Regions from separate parts of the Homo sapiens genome. Here region 2 is linked to region 1. A link means that fine-mapping ties the variant in region 1 to the plasma level of a protein whose gene starts in the linked region. Region 1 holds a variant in brackets. A gene starts in the other region. All regions are shown on their forward strands.

Region 1 (16,175 bases):
TGACTACTTATTGCCTCATACTGAGAATAGAGTTATATAGGGAGACTGCCTCCTTTATGGTTCTCAAATCTATGCCTTGGAAGGCATGGACATATGAGCAACTAGAATGCAATTTAGTAATTGCTATGATAAAAATATGTTCCAAATGAAATTGAAACATTAGGAGGAAGTAGGGAAGTATGGGAAGAGATGACATTTGAGATCGAACTTAGATGAACTTTTACCAAATAGGACACAGTCAAAAGGTGTGGTGATCCATGTAAATTGGCGGCATGAGGGAGAATTTCTGGGCAAAAGGCACTGCTGTGTTTAAGTAGAACCAGAAGTGGGCTTGTCTATGATGTTCAAGTTAATGAGCTCTTTATAATTAACAATCCTTTTGTTAAACACTAAATAATGGATATTTAATGGTTGACATTTCCATTTAGTTAGAGGGAAGGCAAGGGGAATTCAATAAGAATCACATAAACAGAAAAGACATTTTATGAATAGAAACATAATTTACTAATGAATTTTCCAGATGTTTTAAATTTTTAATTTAATTTGATTTAATGGTTTTTAATCACGTATTCTCTTCAATTACTAGGTAAAAACATGAACTGGAATAGTTATTTATAATTAGATTTGCCACATGTCCATATTTAATTAATAGCCTAAGAAAATACTTTATATTGCCTTTAAATAATTGTATGTTGATCCTCTTTTTTTCACTTTCCAAATGTCTTATTTTGCTGGGCTAAATAATTTCCAAGCTTTTAAAAGTTCTGTCTTTGCAACTTTACAACAGCCTTCGCTAGAATTTTAAGCCTTACAATGCTGAGTTTGTAAATGATTACAGCCTATGGATTCCAGAGGGACAGATGTTTCAGAAATGCCATTAATAGACATTCAGATGGCATCTCACCTGGGCCATTCCAAGCATGAAGGCAAAGGGACTAAGCAAGCTTAAAATCCACTCCAAGGATGCAGGAAGGTGTCTGTACAGTGATGTGAACCCCAGACACCCCCAAAAGACAGTGAGGAGGAACACGACCAGGCCGGTGAGGAAAGATTTCTTTACCAAGATGCTCATTAAGAAAGCCAAAGCTACCTAAAATGAGAGAAGATCTAGTTGGTTTATGTTTCTCTAACATTATTACTAGCATAATAAAATAGATATACAAAATTATAGTTATTTTGTGTATGTAACAGTTGTATATTATAGTTATTTTGTATATAACATACAAAACTATGCTCTGCAAATTGCACTAAAAATTGACATTACAAAACACCTCAAATCAAATTGTACCTGTTTATAGATTTTTCACATGCAAACAGAGTAGGTAGAAAAAAAAGGAGGCATACAGAGTAATCAGTCGGAAACAAACAATTTTTAGGCTATAGGTGGATGGAAAGATATTTAATTCACTAACTCACCAAAGATAATCCATACAGGAGAAAGAGGCTGAAGACTACCATGAAGCCAGACAAAATGATAAACTGGGTAGATCTTATAACAAGTGCCAAGAAAAGGGCCATAATGAAGATGAAACCAGCATAGAGCAAACCCCAGGAGAGCCTAATGTGGAAACAAAATGTTATTTTAGTATTTTATGTTCACTTGAAAAGGAAGACCTGAAATGGATTCTAAGATAACTCTTCATTCACTTATTCATCCATTCATTCTCTCTTTCAACATTTATTTATTGGGTGTTCTAAGATATATAAATACAAGGTAAAAGTTTTGGGCAGAATTCTTTAGAATTAGGAATATTCTTTGGGAATTAGGAATTGTTTTTCCTAAAATTGATTTCAGAAATACATTCACACACACATGCACATTGTTCTGGGGGGTGGGGGCGGTGGGGGGGGAATTAGGTTTCCAGTGTAATAGATTTTGGATCGAACATTTTATTTGCTGCATTCTTGCTCTGTAACCTTGGGCAACCTCTGTAACCCCTCTATTATTCCTTTATTTCTCTGGACACCAGGAATAATACTACCACTGAAGACTAAATAAGATGATGGCTATGTAGGGCACTGTCTTAATACAGGGTAGCCCCTCAGTGAACCTCAGACCCTTCTCTCCTCTCTGGAGTCTCTCCAAGTTCAGGACCATCACAAGCTTCCTCAGAGACAAGAAATTCTTCCTTATGTGTAATTTGGTCATGTCACTCCTTCCCCAAAAGCTGTTGTCATCTTTCTCTGGATGTGTTCACTGAAAAGTCTACATACTTGCCTTTAGTTCCGTTCATTGTTTTTGTTAAGAAAGATTTTTTTTGAATCCCATTCTTTTATGTCAGAATAATTCACTTTCCTTTCCTCATCAATTTCTTTTCTTTTGTTTTACAATATT[C/A]TTTGAAAACTATAATGAAATAATAATTTTAAAAAACAAAAACAAAACAGCTGCAAAGCCAACACAATAATAACTCACACACATAGCAATTAATATGCATTGAAGAAAACTTAGCAAACATTAAAGCATTTTATTCTCCCAATAGCCCTATTCAGAATACCATTATTTTCCTCATCTTATTGATAGAGAACCTAATGAACAAGGGTGTTATGTAACTATGTTTCAAGTTCAGGGGTTTTGGCTCTATAGTCTTTAGATTTCACTGCTCTGCTACGTTTCCCTCCAGTATTAATTCAAACAAGAGGTCAATATTGATGTATAAGATGTTAATACTGGAAGGAACTCTTCCAGACTCCTAATTTGTTGCCCTATGCACAGCCCATCTGCCTCCCTAGCCTCTCTGTTATTTAATGTCCTACTCCCTGTAAACATCACCTCCATGCTCTTTCAGTCAATTATTCATAAGTTCTCACACAGAACCTTGTCCATTCTTGGAATCACCCAACCTCTGACATTTTAAACCCACACTACCCAGCCCCTATTCACCATCCTGTTTTGCCAGCTCATTCCCTCAGGCACACCAAGCATGTTCCTCAGTCTCAAAGGAGTTCCTGGTCCTCGGCTTCTTTTTCCCTTTCAATCCCCTCCTAGCTCACATCTCACCTCTGTCTGGCACAGACACCATTGTCTATCTTGTTTACGCCTCTCTTGCCATGGCCATTCCTCATTACACCTTCTTCACAATCAACCAATAACCTAACCCCAATCTTCTTCCTTAACTCAGAGAAGCACAGTAAGACGCAGCCTCAGCCTGGCAAACATTACACCAATGACAGTTTATACCATTCATGGGGATAAAGGATTTTTATATTTCTTTCCTTGTTACTAAAGAATGTTTAAAAGTGGCATTTTCTTATTCATGGCAACACATTTTTTTAAATGGACATTGATGTGTGATAGTTGTGACATTATTTTTTCTGTAAAATTCTGCATTTGGCTCCTTATTTGTTTTCTCAAAGTTTTTTTATTTACTTTTTATGTTTCTTTAAAAGATTATCTTCCTCCTTTCTAAAAAAGTCAATATTATTCGTAATGGAAGTTGTATTTTCTTAAATGTTAGCACATTCTGTCCCCTTTTATCTTATTTCCTATAGCAGTTCCTTCACAGTACAGTGAATCTGAAATAGATTTAGATAAAATTGGGTCAGAGATTGTTAAATATATTAAATGACCAGCCTCTCTACTTAGTCCTGTAAAATTTCCAGAAGCAAAATACATTTCCTTTTTTTTTTTTTTTTTTTTTTTTTGTCCATCACTGCAGAGCATTTCTCCCCACTGAAATTAACTAAGTGGAAATTTGTTCATGATCTGAAATTATTCTGTGTAGGTATCTCTCATTTGTACCCCTTGGTTGTGGAGAAACAGGTTTTAATAAAGACGCATTGAAGAGGCCGGGCGTGGTGGCTCGCGCCTGTAATCCCAGCACTTTGGGAGGCCGAGGTGGGTGGATCACGAGGTCAGGAGATCGAGACCATCCTGGCTAACACGGTGAAACCCCGTCTCTACAGAAAATACAAAAAATTATCCAGGCATGGTGGTCGGCACCTGCAGTCCCAGCTACTTGGGAGGCCGAGGCAGGAGAATGGCGTGAACCTGTGAGGCGGAGCTTGCAGTGAGCTGAGATCACGCCACTGCACTCCAGCCTGGGCGACAGAGCGAGACTCCATTTCAAAAAAAAAAAGATGCATTGAAGATTCCCAGTTTTCCTGAGTTCCTCCGTTTATTTATTTGTGCTGCGTTTGACTCACCAGAACGCTGAATCCCGAAGACCCATCATTGTCATCAAGGCCTTCATCCTTTTCCTCTCTCTTGTGACATTAACAGATGCATAGTAAATGAATGAGGAAAATGAAATAATGCAGGAAAAAAGGTACAAATCAGTTATAACTCCTGATTGACCAATGAAGGAATGCATCTTCATATTTTTTCCAGTAACTGACATCAGCTCCTCCATCACTGAGTGATTTGTTGTGATCTGAAGAAAGGCATTAATAAGCAAAATTTGTACGTTAATGAACAGCATGCAGTTTTCTTTTAACCATCTATTTTCTTGTGGATGTATGATTGGCCTATTGGGATTTGATACTAACCTAAATTTCCACTTCTATGTCCTGTCATTGACCTGCTGGGACCTCGGAGTCCAGGCATTTTGAGTTACTCACCACTCTCAGAATTTACTGTGTGTTTCATTACCTCCCTGCCTAACATTACTTTATGATTTGCTTGGCATGGCTTTTCTCAATTTATATATTCAGTAAGCCACCCCTCATCTCAAGCTTCAAGCTGGAATGTTATTTCAATTAGGCATTCTTCCATGGCATTCTAAGGCTGAGAGGTTTTTACTCATTTACTTATGAGGACCTGATTTATAGTTCTGTAATAGTCTACTTCTGTTCTAATAATTTTCTTATATTCCTGGCTTCCCAACAAAGTTGAGTCCATGAATGAGATACTTTTTCTTCTGTTTGTATCTACATTCCGTGGTATATAGTAACTTCAGTAAACTTCAGAGTGAGCAAAGGAAATAACAAGGCTATCCACTTATATTTTCTTCCATGAAACTTTTGATGCCTCTAATATCATTAACTTGCATTAAACATTAGTTTGCTTTGAACATTTTGTACTCACTTCTATAATAGCAGCATTAATGGCAGCTTGAAGAGCCACAAAACCTTCCTTCCAAAATACTGAAACTTCACAGTAAACATCTTCATTTGTTTCATAACAATGAGCTTTGTGAAAAAACAAATCATAACTATCATTACATCACTATCTATATTATTGAAATATGATTTTAATACTGATTATAGCAAACAGTGGACTTTACAATGACCCCAAATTCCAAATGTTCTTATTTTGACTCAAAGCTTATGAAAACATAAATTATAACAATGATTCTCAAAATGAATCAGGCAGAATCATGAGGTGGAGCACTCTTAGGAAATGTTTTACATTAAATTATAACACTCTAAGCTTTCTCATACCGTGTCCTGTGCTTTTCTGCTGATGAAGAATTTTGTTGGTCTCTTCTCTTTTCTGATTTGTATTGTGAAAACTACATATTTTAATGTTTTTCAAAAGTTCACAGAGCCTAACATGGATTGAGAGACACTAAACTAAAGCTTTTTCTAACACTGGATATAACACGGGCATAATAGGCCAATGGAAGTTCAAGTAAGATTACTTACTACGCTTAAATCATGCCAATCAGAATATCTTTTGAAGAAAAGGATTTATTCAAAAAGAGCTGTCAGTCCATTTAATAGTAAACTATATTAAAGAGATATCCTTGAATAAGATGAATTAAAATTGAGTATAGGAATTAAATGCATATTACATGAAATCATCTTGAAATATTTCAGATATACGAATGATATAAAAATACAATAAACACGCATGGACTCACTACAAATTTGCAAAATAAATGCATCATTTCAAATACAATTAGAATCTCTTGTGCACTTCCCCAGCACCAAGTTTCTAACTAGCTAACTGCTTTCCTGAACGTTATGTATATATATATGCCACTACATATCTCTAAACTATATATGTAATTTAAAAAATTAAACTCTACTAATAATTACTATGAACTATGTTCATTTGTTCCATATTATGATTTTGAAATGTAAATAAATTGCCTCATTTAATTTTTTCTTCTTTTTTATGGTTATGGAATCCCATTGCAGGAATGTAAATCAATATATTTATCCATTCTCCTGTTGATAACAATTTGGTTAGTTCCTTTTTTCTTTTTGTGATTACCAGAAAAAAAAATCTGCTGCTATAAAAATCTGTATATATGTCTTCTTGTAAATATATCTGTATTGGTCAGGATAGTCTCTTATATGTTACAGTAATAACCCCTAAATCTCAGTGATTTATCACAGTGAACGTGTATTTCTCACTCAGGCTACAAATTCAGCAGAGGTGTTTGGTAGGAGGGTTGAGTTGTACTGTCTGTATTATACACAACTCCTTAGTTTGCAGAAGCAGGTGAGAAAAGATGAAGAACTTATACCTGCATTTAAATGCCTTGGGTCTAGCTATCTTATTATGACTACAAAAAGTAATTATTCTATGTCCTCTGGAAGAAGAGGAGAATAGGCTGCAAATCTTTAACACAGGTATGAGAGTTTCACTAATAAGATTTCTATGATGATGAGTTATAAGTTATGTGCACTTCAACTTTAAGATAAAATTTCTCAATTTTTGTGGAATTTACAAATTTTGTAAAGTTGGATAGGTGTTCTCTTTGCTACATATCCTTGTCAATACTTCGAATTGTTCTATTTGCTAATTTTTGCAAATCTTATGAACATGAAGTGATATAACATGTGGTTTCAACACGCAGTTTCCTGGTTGCTAATGAGGAAAAACACCTCTCCTAGTGCTTATTCTTGATCTGTGTTGTTTTATGAAATTCCTATTAATGTCCTTTTGTTATTTTTCTATTTTTGATCTTTTTCCTATTTATTCAAAGTAAATATTTACATATTCTGGAATTAATTTTTTGTTAGATTTTTCTGTTATAAACACTTTATCACCTTTTTTTTTTTTTTTTTAGAGATGGAGTCTCACTCTGTCACTCAGGCTGGCATTCAGTGGAGTACAGTGGTGCAATCTCGGCTCACTGCAAGCTCTGCCTCCCAAGTTCAAGCAATTCTCCTGCCTCAGCCTCCTGAGTAGCTGGGACTACAGGCAGACGCTGCCACGCCTGGCTAATTGTGTGTGTGTGTGTGTGTGTGTGTGTGTGTTTCAGTAGAGACGGGGTTTCACCATGTTGCCCAGGCTGATCTCGAACTCTTGAGCTCAGGCAATCTGCCCGGCTTGGCCTCCCAAAGTGCTAGGATTACAGACATGAGCCACCACGCCCGGCCACTTTATCACAATTTTTGCCTTTATTTTTCACTATCTCTATGGTTCTTTTGATAAAGGGACGTTCTTAAAATTTATGTCTAGTCAAATTTATCAATATTTTAATTTATGGCTGAGTAGTATTCCTATATATATATATATATATATATATATATTATCTTCTTTATCCAGCCCTCTGTTGATGGACACTTATGTTAATTCTCTATCTTTGCTTTTGTGAATAGTGCTGCAATAAACATATGAGTGCAGGTATCTTTTTAAATATAATGATTTTTTTTCCTCTGGGTAGATACCCAGTAGTGAAGTTGCTGGATCAAATGGTAGTTTGTTTTTATTTCTTTGAGAAATCTCCATACTGTTGTCCATAAAGGTTGTACTAATTTACACTTCTACCAACGATGTATAAGTGTTATCTTTTCTTCGCATCTTTGCAAACATCTGATTTTTTTAGACTTTTTACTAATAGCCATTCCGACTAGGGTAAAATGGTTATCTCCTGGTTTTAATTTGCATTTTCTGATAATTAGTGATGTGGAGCATTTTTTTACGTTGGTTGGTTGCTTGTATGTCTTCTTGTGAAAAAAGAAGAATTCAAACAACTCAAATAACTGCACTGAAAAATAGGCAAATGGGTTATTTGTTTTGCTTGTTGAGTTCTTTGAGTTCTTTGTTGAATGCATAGTTTGCGATTTTTTTTTCCATCTGTAGGTCATCTGTTTACTCTGTTGATTGTTTCTTTTGCTTTGCAGAAGTTTTTTTTAGTTTAATTAAGTCTCGTTTTTCTATTTTTGTTTTTGTTGTATTTGCTTTTGAGAACTAAGTCACAAATTCTTTTCCTAGCCCAATGTCCAGAAGAGGTTATTCCTAGTTTTTTCTTCCTGAATTTTTATAGGTTCAGGTCCTATGTTTAGGTTTTAATCCATCTTGAGTTAATTTTTGTATATGGTGAGAGATATGGGTCCAGTTCTATTGTTCTGCATAAGGCTATTCAATTTTCCCAGTACAATTTATTGAAAAGGATTTTTCCCCCAGTGTATATTTTTGTTGACTTTGTCAAATATCATTTGATTGTAGGTATGTGGCTTCATTCTGGTTTCTCTATTCTGTTCTATTTATGTACATGTCTATTTTTATACCAGTATCATGCTGTTTTAGTTACTATAGCCTTGTAGTATAATTTGAACAACTGAGCTTATTTGAAGGGAAATTTGTTCTATCTTATCCATAAACTACCTTGTTTTCTTTTAACAATCATATATTCCATATAATATCTATGTGTGTACATATGAATACATATTTCATTTACATATATAAATATATATCTATGTAAATGTATGTAGATAACTATATATAATGACCACTTATCGATATGTTCTTATGCCCAAAAATGAATTTTTTTTTAAATGTTGAGGGACATGCATACATCATTATGACAGATAGTGATGCTCTAATTTGGCATACTAACCTCTATTCCCACACATGACTTATGACATAATTGAAATAGAGAGTAGTGAAATTTTAGAGCCATAAAATTACCTGTATGGTCCTTGTGCTCCTTCTTTGCTGGCATTCCATGTCCTAGCAAGAACTTCAAATGATATGAGTATGTATTAGTAAAGGTGACTCTTACTATTTCTTCAGGATAATTTGCTGTGAATTCTTTAATACTTTCCTCATCTGGCAGTCCCAAGACCTCTTTACCTTTTGTTACAAGAAGGAATATTATTGTTAGTAAATTACTAGGAGACACAACTTCAGGATGTCATGTTGAATTGCTTTTACTAGAGTTTTCTATGGAAATAAAACATTATCAAGTATTAACTTTTAGAAAGTTAGACTAAAATGTTGGGTGGGAGAGAAATTTCTAAAGTTCCATCTAGATGCAATCAGAAGAAATACATGAAAATTAGTTATTTTATTTTCATATGTTGTGATTACTGAGCCAATTTCAATCACATACAATGTCCTACTATACCAATTAAACTGTTCAAAAATAGTTATCATTCCTATAAATTTGAAATGGTAAATATAGAGAGATAGATATTTAAATTGCAATTAGGCACTGTTTTGTATCAGGTGGACATACCTATACAAATTTATTTTTCTTTAATAATCCTGATGGTATGGTTAATAAGCTAAAAAAGGTGATAAATTTAAAAACATGTTAAGAAACTATGTTGACATCACTGAAAGAATCCCTCTTTTCTGTAGGTATTTTGTCTGAGGCCACATGGATGTTTTATTAATACTGAAAAATGAGACAAAATACAAGAAAAGTTCTGGATTGGGGTGGAAGTGTTGAAGATGAATGTAGAGGGAGCAAGAAGTATGTATTTTGATAGAATTAATTTTATTCTCAAACTTATGTCATCATGAGCAAATTCCTTACCCTTTGTTACTCAATTTCTATATTTGTAAAATAAACTTAATAACCATTATTATTATTATTATAGAATATTAATAGAGTACAGAATATAGAATAATATCATTACAAAATATTCTCTTTTTACAGAATACAGTTTTTGTAGAAATATACCATATTGTAGCATTTAATGAATATTTATTATTATAATTGCATGTGGTTTTGAATGAGGTAATGTCGAGAAGCACAAGTTCCTGACATTGGGTCTTGTTATGGACGTCTGTGAAACAGCAAGAGCAGACACGTCTCAGGGCCGTTTAGGAGACTGGACCTTAGGTGGATAGTTCATATCACATTATAATCTTGAATCAGAAGTGGATTCAGTGTTGGTAGGTAAGATGCACAATATAGGCATTAAAATGTATGTGGAACTAATGGTGTGATGCTTGGTGAGGCGCCGTTGGAAAGCATATTTTGGATAACTCACAGGAAGGAAAAGTCCAACATACTCTGGAAACTCTGGCCATAGACAGTCCAAATAGCAAGTGCATGAACTGGATTACTGGATACAGAATCCAGTGAAGGGGTCAGAATCCAGGCATAAGATTAATAATTACTTAAGCTTGAGTGGAATTTGGACGGAAGTTGACAAAGAAAGGAAAAAAAGAGGTTATGCAGGCTTCCAGTGACTTGGTGGAGCAAGATGCATAGGTTCTCCTTAGAAGAACGCCCTTGGTGGGAGTTATGTTGCTTAAAATGAATAGTCAGTACCTTCTAAGTCAAATTTTTATATTCCTTTAAAAATTGGGATGTAATTCACATACCATAATATTCACCCTTTTAATAATTTCATGGTTTTTAGAATACTCACACAGTTGTACAAACTCGAAGTCACTTTAAAATTATAACTCAACTCATAAAAAATTATTCAACTCATCAAATTAAATCTCACTTTACATCCAACCATCAATTCTGATTTGAAGCTGCTGCCTGATACTGACATCCTGTAGATATAGTCTGACTGTTCCTGTACTTCTACCTCCATTTGTTAATGAGAATCTTCTTTTAGTATTAGCGTAGTTGGCTTTCAATCAGTTAGGTTTGGTATAATCCAAAACAGAATAACTAACTTCTTATTAACTTTATTGACAAATACATTGCTAGCATTATTTTTGTAGTTATTCTGGTTATAACAACTAAATATTTATACAGAAAAATCATGCCCATATGAATGTGGGTCCGATCCAACAGGACACACCATTTGCCATTCTCTACAAAATTCTTAGTAGCCATTACATTTTTACTAGCTGATCTAGAAACCATCCTCCTGTTACCATTACCATGAGCATCTCAAATGAACAACTTAAAACTTATACTCACTATAGCACTAATTTTAATCTTTACCTTAGCCCTCGACCCAGCCTATGAATGAATGACAGGGCGATCACCACAGATTTCCCTTTGAAGTATGCATTTATAGTTGTAAAGGACATATGTTGTTTTTATCTGTTGACATCCAGTTCTTCTAATAAAAACACACTATGATCCATTTGGGATACTTCCCTTCCTCTGCTCACATATCCTGTGGTTTCAATGTGGTTCATGACCTGGGAACTCAACAAGTGGGCAATGAAAATACCGCATATCCCCTATCCAAAGAGATTAGTTCTCGGTGAACCAAGATCAACACTAACCCAAAGTCACCTATTTGTTCCTGTGGATAAAATCCTTGAAGTTATTGTGAACTATCAGAAATGATCTGTAATCTTTTCACTGGAGTTGCTAATCTGGGAGGGCTTAAATCTGGAGAGTCTGCAGACCAACTCTGCCTCTGGGAGAACCAACCTGTGAATGAAGCCAGCACACAAAGCTGTATATCGGAGGGGCAGAGATTTACTTCTGTTGGTGATAAACCTCTAATCTGCCTTGCATTAATACTCTGCTCTTTTAAGCTAGACAAAAGATTCTTTTTCTTAAGACAGATTGAGTTGGGCCTCTTACGCTCAACTGAAATATTTATGAAAAATATAGTATTATTTTTTATAGATCATTGTTAACTAGTCACCCTACTGATCTATCGAACACAAGGTCTTATTTCTTCAAACTGTAAGAGTTTATTGTTGCATAAATTGTTAATCTTATTTTGCGTTTGCTAATAATAAGGCTAAGAGAAGCTGATGGCTTTCAAAATGCACTCCAGACACATATGTATCACAGCAGTTCTGAGTGGACTCTTAGAACTACTTTTAATCAAATGTCCTCTGACTCTAAGTCTAGTTCTCTTGCCTTTGTACCAGGCTGCATCTCCTCTAATTTCAGAGCATTGTTGTAAAAATGATTGTTATAAAAATGATCTTTACCCTTCAGCTTTAAGGTACTCGTTAAGTTAACCTTAACCTTAACTCAACTTAACAACTACTTAACCTTAACTCGTTAAGTACCTTAATGCTGAAGGATGAAAATCTGAAATACAGAATACTCAAAGGAATATTCAAATAGAGCAAGCACATGTTTTTGGTGTTAAAAGGTAGGGTTAAAATTCCTATAATCAAATTTAGGAAAAGAAGAGACTGGTTTTTCTTTGTCTATAAGAACAAGAAAACACTACAGCAACGATTTCATTTTGGTGACAATGCTTTCAGAGTCACATGTCAACATATCCCTAAACACTACTGCTCTAAATGTGCACCAGTCTGTATAATTTCATGCTTCCTCAAATCCTATACCAGATCAACAAGTTTCTTTTTGAGAGACTGCGCACCCCAAATGGTAAACCCTTGTTTGGCAAGCAATACATGTAGTTTTAACTTAGATACTGAGTGGTGAGATGTTACTTCCAATAAAGGGAAGACACATTCCCAATTCATGTACTCCAGAAAGTTTAATTATCAAACTGAAATACAAATTAAATGTATAAATCTGCGGTCAAATAAACCAAATATTCACACCAGACATTCTTCTTAAGTAACTAGAAAACTTACCTGCCAGGAAGGGAGTAGAGGCTACTTTATTCATTATCTGTTGGGTCGTGTTGGTGACAGGTGTGTATACAACAGAAAATCTGGATTCATTAAATGTATCTACCCGTCCCAGGTCCATGGTAAGCAGTGAAGAAAAATCATTTACTTGATGACTATGAGGATATATATACAAACAAAGTAGTAGGAGCAATGAATTCAGCCATTCCTATATAATACAGGAAAAAAGATAAAGAAAAGTCTTATTTAAAATTAGTCATCCACAATCATTTTGTCATAAAGTTTGCCTCTTTTTTACTTTTCTAACTTCAATATATCCCATATTATAAACTGTTTAAAGTCTGCTGAAAGTCAATGTGTTTTAAGAGATAGTTCCAAGGCATTGCTAGCTTAGTAATGATATACTGGTTACATGCCAAGATTCTGGAATTTCAAACTCAACAGTATACCAGTTTGTAAGGGCATTCTGATAATTCTAATAATAAGATAGTATCGGAGGGATAGTATCTTCGTTAGTTATAAATCCTGATCACATGCGAACTCCCAATAAGAAATCACTTTATTTCCAAAATGCATGATCTTAGGGGAAAAAACTTTACGATGTATGTATAGTGGAATTCCAATTTAGTTAAAAATGCTACCTAGCTATATCGATCTGATTTTTAAAATATACCAAAGTTTAATCAAGATTTTTTATATGGTAAGATTATAAGAGCTAATGCTAATTTTCTTCTTGGAATTTAATACAATTCCAACTTTTCTACTTTTTTGAAGAAAACTAATTGTTTCAAGAAGAGAAAAAGATCTCAAAGAGAAAATGCCAGTTACCCATTGTGGTGGGTTGGTTTGTTTACCATATCTTTGGAATGTCAGTATCTTAACCCTAGTCTCCATGACTGGGGACACTAGTAACAAATGTGACCATTGGCTTTTAAAACATGTATTGATTTCTCAATTGCTACCAGATTCAGTGGTTTCAGACCTCAATTTATGAGCCCATGTCAACTGAAATATCTTCAAACAGATTCATGGCCTGAAGAATAGCGTTTTCTGTTGTATAAACGTTGCTGTATTTTAGTGTTTTTGGTGTATGTGTCGGGGGAGATACACATGGCATAGATAACTCCCAGGCAACACGTATTTTCCTATCATAAATAGAGAATAACACGGATATTGAGTCATACCATTAAGGACTCTCTTTTCATTCTCCATTTTTTAAGAAAGTTCTTGCATAATAAGGCCCAAGTTTGTTGACACACACTGATCTTTCTCTTCCTCATCTTGTCTTGTTTAATGAAAAAGAAAGAAGATAAAATTAATATGAAGTTCTTAAGAAAAAGAAATATCCTGCAAACAACAAAAAAACGTAGCCTAATACTCCAATGTTCCAAATGAGTGCAAAGAGTCTGAGTGTTCCCAAGTCAGCATTGTATTACTCCCATGCTCTCCTTCCGTCCCCACTTGCAGACTCTGTTCCATCATTTATTTGTGATGCCCTGTGCCTGTTATCAATTTACTGTCTCTCAGCCCTAAATTCACTCTGCATAGCCTGCTCTATAAAAATGGATCTGAATCCTTTAAGTACTTTCCTTTGCCAGCTGGCATGATGTTATGCTGTTTCAGCAGAGAGGACAGTAGAGACACTGCAGGCATCTGATGCCATCCAGGTATCAGAATAGTTCATTTGCTGAGTTGCTATAGAATGTATTTTTCCCCACTGAGTAAATTGTTTTCTCCAATGCAAAGTACCTAGAGTGTGCAGGATTCACTGTGTGTTTCCTCTAGCTCTTGACTTGGGTAGCAGTAGTATATCTGGGAGCCCCAGATAGCTACATCCCTTTCCTCGAAGCTCTGTTTCCTTTGGCCGTCCTGTTGCAAAAGGAGTGCACTCTAGTACTGGTGTCCACAGCTTGCCATTCAGACTTCTTTGCCATTCGGTGGGTTTCAACCACTTCTTATCCAATTGTCAATACCTTATCTCCTCATGTTTATTCTTCTTTGGATATTCTCCCTCAGCCCTAGGAAGCCCTCTTGAGCTCTCAGTCCATCTTTATAGTTATTCTCCTGTCACTATTCAATAGTTCTGTATATTAAACTTACTTCATTTAATTACTATGTAGTTTCTGTCCCCAGATTGCACCCAGACCAACACCTACACATACACCACTCTTAATTTCAATAAATACATCCTTGAACACCCAATTTAATGACTCTATAATATTTAGCTTAAGAACCTGAATAAATAATCTGTTTTAGGAATTGATCTATCTAAGACAATTTAATGGGATCTTTGTTATTTCTGGCAGAAATAATTGCTCTCTTTACTAATTTGTTGTGGGATGAAAGAAAATTTTCTTTCCCTAGTGAAAGAAATTGAACTTTTTACTATCTTTCTTTGAAGAATTAAAATCTTAATATAGGATAATCACCATAGTTTGGCCTGGAAAAAGCTTTACATTGTCTTTTTAAAATGTCACTTTAATCGAATGTCATTTTAAAGTGACATTTATTTATTGTTTCCATCTTTAAGAATTTATTTATGTTTATTATGCAGAGTCATCAGGAAAAATACACACACGTATTTCCATATATATGATCTCCGTGTATGTGTATAGATATACTTTTTTCTAAAATCATTGTAGCAATTTGTACTATGATAGGAAGTATTTCAAAATTCATCTTTTCCACATTCTCATCTATAACCATATTGCCATTCTCTATAAGATTTCCTGGATTTTTCTTTCACTTACAATGCATAAATTCTCAAGAGAATGTTGCTACTTTCCTAATAATGAAACAAAGTCAGATAATCTATAAAATTATAACTTTTCTTGGGTCTATCAAAGAGCTGAGTTCACAGGTAACTAGGTAAACTAAAGTCCAAAGGGTAAAAGCCTTCTCCAGGGATAAAAGGGACCCATGAACAGTTTCAGAATTGGTAGAGTATTAGAGAAAGACATGGCTACTATAAAAGCAGGTAGGGAGAAAGCAGCTGAAATGTTAAATTTTTAATGGCTGAGTGTGGACCCACAGCTTGCGTGTTTGTTTACAATTACCAGGACCCCAGCACATTTGTCAACTCTTTTTTTACAGGCTTCACCTAGTATTCATTAAAAAAAATTACAATAGCAAAGAGTTGGAACCAACCCAAATCCCCATCAATGATAGACTGCATAAAGAAAAATGTGGCATATATACACCATGGAATACTATGCAGCCATGAAAAAGAATGAGATCGTGTCCTTTGCAGGGACATGGATGAAGCTGGAAGCCATCATCCTCAGCAAAATAACACAGGAACAGAAAACCAAACACCTCATGTTCTCGCTCATAAGTGGGAGTTGAACAAGGAGAACACATGGTCACAGGGAGGGGAACATCACACACTGGGTCCTGTTGGGGGGTGAGAGGAAAGGGAAGGGAGAGCATTAGGACAAATACCTAATGCATGTGGGGCTTAAAACCTAGATGATGGGTTGATGGGTGCAGCAAACCACCATGACACATGTATATCTATGTAACAAACCTGCATGTTCAGCACATGTAGCCCAGAACTTAAAGTTAT
Region 2 (8,000 bases), not on the chromosome of region 1:
CAAGTGATCCACCAGCCTTGGACTCCCAAAGTGCTAGGATTACAGGTATGAGCCACTGCACTCACCCAGGAATCTTATTTTCTAGCAGCAGCTGTCATCTCCCTCATTGTCCACGATTAAACAGAGGAATATTAGCAAAGGGTCTCAATGCATCTGCTGAACCCAAATCTTATAGATAACAATTGAATAATCGGTGTTCATGGAGGAGAAGGGCATTGCTAAATGCTAATATTATGAACATTTTACTATGAGAACATTATATTACTCAATGAGATCTAAGATATCAAAATAGCAATTCATGACCAGCAAATGGAAAAGTGGTCCACCTTGAACATTAAGCATTGTGCTTAATGCTTAATGGATGTGCTGCAAATTCACTGTCCTCAGCCTACTTCTTTGCATCTGCCTTTGAAGCCCAAGCTGCAGGCAGGACCTGAGCATCCCCACCAGTCCCTGGGCTCCAATAAAACCTCCAACCTTTTGGGAGCAGTAGACCTCATTCAGCTGCCACCTCACTTCTCAGTCAAATTATTGAACTCACCAAAGATGACCAGCAATGACCACAGCAGCATGAGGACCTAATCCAGCTATTTGAAAAGAGATGTACTCTTGGTCACCAACTGGAGACTCTGAGCAGGCGATGAAATGTGGTTTTCAGAATAGGTTTTGTATAATTAGCAAAAAAGGAAGTAGAATAGTGCCACTATGTTTAACCATTATCTTTGTCCTGGAAGGGCTAAAACAATTATAGCTGATCCTCTCAATGCCAGAGAAATTTTGTAACTTGACCCTCATTATGATACCTAGCATTTACATATGGGTTGCAATGAGTCAGACACAGTTCTAAGTGCCTCATGCTTACAGAGTTATTTATTACCTTCAGCAAGTTTCTGAATTGGCACTATCCCCTTTCACATGAATAAGGAAATTGAGGCACTAGTAAAGGTAAGTGTCTTAGTCCATTGGGGCTGCTATAAAGAATACCTTAGACTGAGAAATTTATAAACAACATAAATTTATCACTCATAGTTCAAGAGGCTGGGAAGTTTAAGATCAAGGCACCAGTAGATTCAGTGTCTGATGAGGGCCTGTTTCTCATAGATGGTGTCCTCTATGTGTCTTCACATGATGGAAGGAGCAAACAAGCTCCCTCAAGCCTCTTTTACAAGGAGACTAATCCTTTTCATAAGAGTTCCACACTCATGACCCCTAAAAGGTCATGTAATAAAAGGTGGGTACCTTTTATTACTATTGCATTGAGGATTAAGTATCAACATAAGAATTTTGCCAGGACACAAACATTCAGATGATAGCAGCCAGTAAAATGACCAAGATCAGCTTAATCAATTTCTAGTAGTAACAGATCTGGGATTCAAACCCAGGCAGCCCAGTGTCACAGTCTGGCTCTTAAACATTGTGCCCTATTATCTTGATATATTGCTTCTCAAGGTTCATAAAATAATAAGGCCATTGTTTCAATAGCTCATATTTCTTAAGTAAAATTTTTCGTAGTCATTCGATGACTTTCTAGAATGAGATTTTACTAAACTTCAAAACACTTGCACTATATTGCTGAAAACATTGCCATCTTTCTAATCTGTAATCACAACATTGCCTATTTCTAATCTGCATTGCTTTTTGTACCCCAGGCTGATCCTAATACAGTTATCTCACACAAAGCAAAGCGCGTGTTATGTGAACACCTATTATCATGCTCACTTTGATTAGATGTAGTCCCAGTAGATGTTGTCTCATCAGTGAACCTTATGCAGGATGAAACTCTAAACCAAAAAATCACAGGTGCTTATAAATGAGGGACTGACTGAAAATATTCATAGACTCAATGTTACCTGTTCAGGTACTTAACATTTACCTGAATACTTAACATTGAATTTTTAACAATTGGATACTTAACATTTTATTCTCACTATTATCATAGTTTTACTTTGAGAAAGGCTAATATTTATATGTGATGGTCATTAAAGCCTTGCTTATAATAATGTAAAAAGAAAATACTAAAAATATATCACAAGGAGAGATGTGTGTTAAAAATAAGTTATGTGTCAAATGCTGTGGAAAACCAAACAGCCATTAAAATAATTCTGTGGAATAATATTTAATAGCAAGATAAGATGTCTAGGATATATGATTAAGAAAAAAGTGGGCTGGGTGCGGTGGCTCACGCCTGTAATCTCAGCACTTTGGGAGGCTGAGGCGGGCGGATCACGAGGTCAGGAGATCAAGACCATCCTGGCTAACACGGTGAAACCCCATCTCAACTAAAAATACAAAAAATTAGCCGGGCGTGGTGGCAGGTGCCTGTAGTCCCAGCTGTTTGGGAGGCTGAGGCAGGAGAATGGTACAAACCCGGGAGGCAGAGCTTGCAGTGAGCCGAGATCGTGCCACTGCACTCCAGCTTGGGTGACAGAGCAAGACTCCGTCTCAAAAAAAAAAAAGAAAAGAAAAGAAAAGAAAAAAGTGGCTGCAGAGTGCACTTTATCTGCTGCACATTATCCCCTGCTCTCCAATAAAAAGTGTCTGAGACAATTCGCACCACAGAGTTACTGTAATTATATCCAAAAAATCTAATTAAAGCTGATTTTTATTTTCCTTATTTTGCTTATCTGTGTATTCTAGTATTCTTACAATAAACATATGCTATTTACGTACTTTTTAAAGATTCATTATAAGAAACTAGGTTTTATGGCCTCTCTCATCTTAAAGTGTTGAAAACAATACTACTTTAACTTTCTGCATAGGCAAACGGTTTGTATGTGTTTGAAAGTGTAAGTTACTCTTTCCCAGGACCAAAGCTAGTCACTGATCATCAAATCTTGCCTACTGAATGGGTTTCTAGGTGGCCTATAATTCCTTCCCATTCTGACCAACCTGGAAGCTATAGAAATTTTGTGGATGGGAGGGAATTAAGGAAAGGAGTACAAATAGGATCATGAAAAAGTTGATGGTAAATTGATGGTAGGTACAAGTTTTTCATAGACATCAAGGAGATTTTTCAAAATAATCCATATCCCTTCACTGATTTCTATATACCCTCTATGGAAATGTGGCCTCTTCAGTTAAGAATCAATATTTCTTAAGGTGTTACCAAATGATATGAGGTAAAATTCACAGTTGGTATAAAAGGTGCAGGTGGAAAGCAGCAGTAATGAGGTGTGTGGGCCACAGAGGTGGCAACAAATCCTCTAAGATGGCTAACATGTTTCATGTGGGTGCTACTCTGTATTTGACAGACGGCAGTAATTTACAAGTGAATAGGCATATCCTGGAAGCGTAGCTAAACTTGAATGCACAGTAGGCACTGTGACCAGAGATTAAGAGGCTTAATAGACACTTGGTGGGGGGTGGGGAAAGTAACTTAAAAATTAAGGCAATAGTGGCAGAAATAAAATTATGTTTGTAGGTTTGATCAAAGTGAGAGATAATACTTTTTGTGCAAGGATATTTTGCCACCAACAGGATGGAGTCACAGGTATCAGAAAGAACCAGCATTAGACATACATATAAATGCCTCTTGGATCAACCAGGTAAACCCTTAACATGGAGATTCCACAGGTGGTAACATACTGAAGCCTATTTTGCCAGATGCAGAGCAAGAGTCATCTCTGTGAACCGTGTTCAATGTCTTGAATGGAATACAAAATACAGTGCCAAGTTGGGGCATGCCAGAACTGAGACAGAGACAAATAGAGTCTTCATAAAATATGTCAGAATAAAACAAATCACACTTCCTGCTTGATGAATTTGATTACTAGGACAGTTAGAGTGGGAAAATAAGAAAATGAAACAGGCTAACTTCCAAGATCCCTAGATATAATCTTTTGAGCTTGGGGTTCCAAGGTCACTATGAGAGAATTAAATGTCATAATATATATAAATTACTTGTCATAATAATTGCTACATAAATGGCAGTAGAAGTAGTCATAGTCATGGTCATCATCATTGTTATGGCAGTAGTGGTAGTAGCAGTTTTAATAATTACAATAATTACCTTGAGCAGCATGATATGTCTTTGTTGAGTGGGGCTTTCCCTAATAACTTCCTGTCCAAGATAGTAACTAGATACTTTCCGAGTTCTATGGAGGTGATGTTGTTTGTTGAAGAACTTCTGGGACAGAACTGGCTAGACCAAATGTTGTCTATGCAGACACTCTCCAATGTAATTTAGACAGAGCCAGGCCCTTCTGCCCAGAAGATTTTTTACAATTAAATTTATTATATCTAGAAGTCCAGTAGGGCTCTGCATGGAGCAAATAGCATGAAAGAGAATTCAGAATGGGTATAAATGCTTGGAAGCTAGTGGTCATTACCTCCATGGAAGATAATGAAGATAGTGAAAGCCCAGAGAATCAGAGAAGGCCAAGAGTAAGTTGAAGTTTTAGATAGTGTATCTCTAGGGGACTGGAGTTTAACAAAGTTCGATTTTTTCCTTCGTCATGAAGATTATCAGTTCCTTTAGTAGCAATGGAAACTATGGTAAATCCTTACTAAAGAAGGTATTACTATTCCTACAGTGGAGGTGGAGGGGAACCCAGCCTTGGTGTCTGAGGGGAGGCAGAGAGGCAGAAAGACTTAGGGAGGCTCATAGAAGACATCAGAGCAGCACCTGTGGTGGTGAGCAGTCTTCTCTCCGTGTATGAAAATACTTCCTGGCAAGTTGCCTGGGTTCCATGAGAACAACAGGTGGGGAGGGATGTCTAGAGGTCAAATTCAGTTCAAAGCTTTCTGCTTCCTGTTTTAATTGTATATGTGTGGGTTTTCCAGAAGGTGGATGGGTTATGACTTTTCAGGCCAAGGGGAGCTGTGAACCATGGGTCATCAACTACACCAACCGTTAGTAGAATCACCCACAGCAGCTTTCTGTGGGTGTCTTTCTGGCAGGCTGGTGAGTATCAGTTGTAGTAGAAGAAAAAAGCAAGAACCAAGATCGAGATTACACTGATGGCTTTCTGTCTTGTTTTACCATGCTTTTTTTTTTTTTTTTTTGCTCACTCTTCTAACACACTCTGCTAATAACTTTTTCACAGTTCATAAAGATATGATTCCCAAGCAGAATCATTATTCATTCAGTCATTAATTCATGCATGCATGAAGCCATGCATTCAGTTACTCAGTGGAGTTTTATTCAATGCCCCTGCTTGATGGGCAATACACTTGGCACTAGACATACCCAGATAAAAAGATATGGTCCCTGCCCTGATGGAAATTGCATTCTAGCATCAGAAGACTAATAGAAAAGAGTAAACATACTTGTGTCCCACTGCTGTGGTGGAGCTCTGTACAGCATGTGAATGGACACAGTGGAGATTAAGGAGTAAAGGCTTCCAGAAGAAATGAATATTGAGAGATAGGTAGGTTTCAATCAAGCAAATAAGACTTAGGAAGATGGAGAAGTTCCAGGCCTAGAAAGCATCAGGAGCATGGTAAGAGGTCAGGGACCCATTCGGGCTGCTCAGGTATCCACAGGCACTTTAGAATGGCAGATCCAAAGGTATGAGGAAGAGCATCACAAGAGGTAAGGCCCAAAAGTGGGAAGGTGGGAAAATCTTTATATTTTCATAGGGTGGAGGAGACACCCACTCCATTCCCAGGAAAGAACACCACTAGATAAAACTCTTTTGGTCCTTTTACCATTGTCCTTTTATTCCTACTATTTGTTCCTCTGCATGGGAGAAGAGGCTCATCTGATTGGTGAGTTGGGTTGAAGATGTCAGCTCATGACCTTGTTCTCTCTCTTCACTTGTCCTCAAACAGAAAGTAATCTCTTCCTGCTTATTTTCTTATGTGTAATTATCTCAATGAGTTATCACAGAAGCCAGGGTCCTCTGCTGGCTAAACACAACTCTCCTAACAGTAAGTCCCAAAGCCTATTGATAGAAAAGTAGAGAAAATCTCCATTTGGCTGAAATATAAGTCACATGATCTAGTCTAGTATGGTCATTATTAAAGCTGATATTTTGTCTCCAATCTGACTTTGTCAACTTAGTTCCAAACCTGGAGAAGAGACATAAGGTGAGTAGCACCCATAAACCCTAAATATTTCAAGACTAATGGTGGCATTTCAACCATGATCAGAACATGATCATTTTGAATTTGGACAGCAGGGTGTATGTGGACTAGAAGGAATAAAGCTAGAGATAAATAGAAGAGCTGTATGGCCACTGATACAGTCCAGGATAGAAAAGATGAAGGCTTGAACTAAGGTGGTTCTGATGAAGAGGAGGAGATAAATTTTGCCAGAGTCAAAATCTGCAGAGCTTCATGACTGATTAGGTGTGGGGTGTAAGAGTGGAGCCAGAATCCAGAAAGATACCTAGGTTCCTGGACTTTGTTTTTACTAAGTTACAAATCTGCTTTAATTTTATTTACGGCAGCCTGCTCTGCTTCTCTGGATTGAAGTCTTATTTTTTTCCCTCATAATCCTTTATCCCCAAGATTCTTCTTAGAAGGTATCCCATACTTCCTGTAACCAAGCTCATTGCAATCTCATTATATAAATTTTTCAGGGTTCTCCCAGATGAGCCGCTTCCTCATATTTTGTCTCAGCTTTAGCCTCCTTTCTTCTTTCTTCTCTCTTTAACCATCTCACTCAAATTTAGCATTGTCATTTCCTCAATGCCATAGTGGCAGATTTGTCTGTGTCTTACAGGAAGCTTACATGCCTTGTGACAAGAAACCACCATTATTGACCTGTCCAGGAAAACTAGTCATAAGAAAGTATATGGCAAAGCTATCAATGGCCCACTGGTGAAGGAACCCAGAGCTGAGACAAGGATAAGGCAAAGGGTGGGATCAGTTCTAGAGCTAACTTCTAACAATTTCAGTGTTTGTGCATAACTAAAAATAGAATTTTCTTCCAGTGTTTCTCAATTAATTAAATTTTTCACTTTTATCTGGCATCAGATACATAGGAAACTATAAAGAAAAAAAGTTTAAAGATATAATTGTGGTATTGGTGGACACACTATTGGGAGAATGAAAAAGGTTTTGGTTGCAAGGGAAAGATGATTATAGAATAACAGAACTCCACAAATACAGAGAAAATTAAGGGTCATCAATATTATCAGAAAGCCTGTGACTCCAGCCAATTGGATCAATTACTTATAATGGAAGACATGATCCAAGATAGCAAACTAAGCACTGGTATTTAAATTTTCTTACTTTCAAAATCCCCTTAGATGATGAAAAAATTTAAAAATCAAAATAAAATCCACCACCACTTGGAAAACAAGAAGTGGGGAATACTAGTTCTGGCAGGTTTGGTTAGACTAAAACACCTGAAAATTCTCCCACTTTAAATTCTCCCACTTAAATGCTTATAAGTGATGAATAAATATTACATAATTTTTAAATACATAACTATATATGTAAGAAAGGAGAGAAATCCCCCCATTGTAGATAAATGATGAAGTGAAAGCAGAGTGTTAAACATGTAAATTGGCATTACTGATCCCCTGGGAGGTGTAACGGAGGAAATTAAACAGTAGCTATGTATTTTTTTTTTTTTAGATGGAGGCTTGCTCTGTCCCCCAGGCTGGAGTGCAGTGGGGCGATCTCAGCTCACTGCAACCTCTGCCTCCCAGGTTCAAGATATTCTCTTGCCTCAGCCTCACAAGTAGCTGGGATTACAGGCGCCCGCCTCCACGCCTGGCTAATTTTTGTATTTTAGTACAGACGGGGTTTCATCATGTTGGCCAGGCTTGTCTTGAACCCCTGACCCCAAATGATCCACCAGCCTCGGCCTCCCAAAGTGCTGGGATTACAGGTGTGAATCACCATGCCCGGCCAATACTAGATACTTTTTATGGGCTTAGTGTTTAAAGTCCATGTGGAACTAGGAAACAAAACCTTAAGGCTTCAAAAGGAAGAAACTTGAAACTAAAACACCTGCATACAGTGTAGACCCTCAAAAACTACCTTTTAATAAATGAATGGTGGGTGGGGGAAAAAATCCACCCATTAGCACAGACAGATGATAAGCA

Alleles and levels. Alleles are on the strand shown, and positions count from the first base shown. The strength of an association depends on the size of the effect and on how common the allele is.
With allele A in place of C in region 1, the plasma level of the protein whose gene starts at base 631 in region 2 is lower (weak association).

Evidence for each region. PIP is the chance, under the fine-mapping model, that this variant and not a neighbour inherited with it causes the effect. Protein levels are from antibody-based Olink assays in UK Biobank. Linkage for the fine-mapping came from a reference panel and not from the study's own genotypes, which makes the PIPs less certain.
Region 2: FCRL2 starts here. The variant in region 1 is fine-mapped to the plasma level of the FCRL2 protein (UK Biobank, PIP 0.98).

Annotation. Positions count from the first base shown.
Region 1 is chr17:68,928,145-68,944,319 of GRCh38, forward strand. ABCA8 (ATP binding cassette subfamily A member 8) reads right to left here. Exons shown (of 40, transcript NM_001288985.2): 3 at 13,795-13,895; 4 at 12,614-12,818; 5 at 8,807-8,971; 6 at 5,024-5,127; 7 at 4,144-4,370; 8 at 1,417-1,558; 9 at 905-1,090. The coding sequence starts at 13,890. Among named protein-coding and RNA genes, the nearest start is that of ABCA8, 19 kb to the right of the region's middle. The variant C/A (reference allele first, on the strand shown) is at 2,336.
Region 2 is chr1:157,776,502-157,784,501 of GRCh38, forward strand. It overlaps FCRL2 (Fc receptor like 2), which reads right to left and starts at 631. Exons shown (of 12, transcript NM_030764.4): 1 at 542-631. The coding sequence starts at 572. RefSeq lists an enhancer at 4,553-4,612.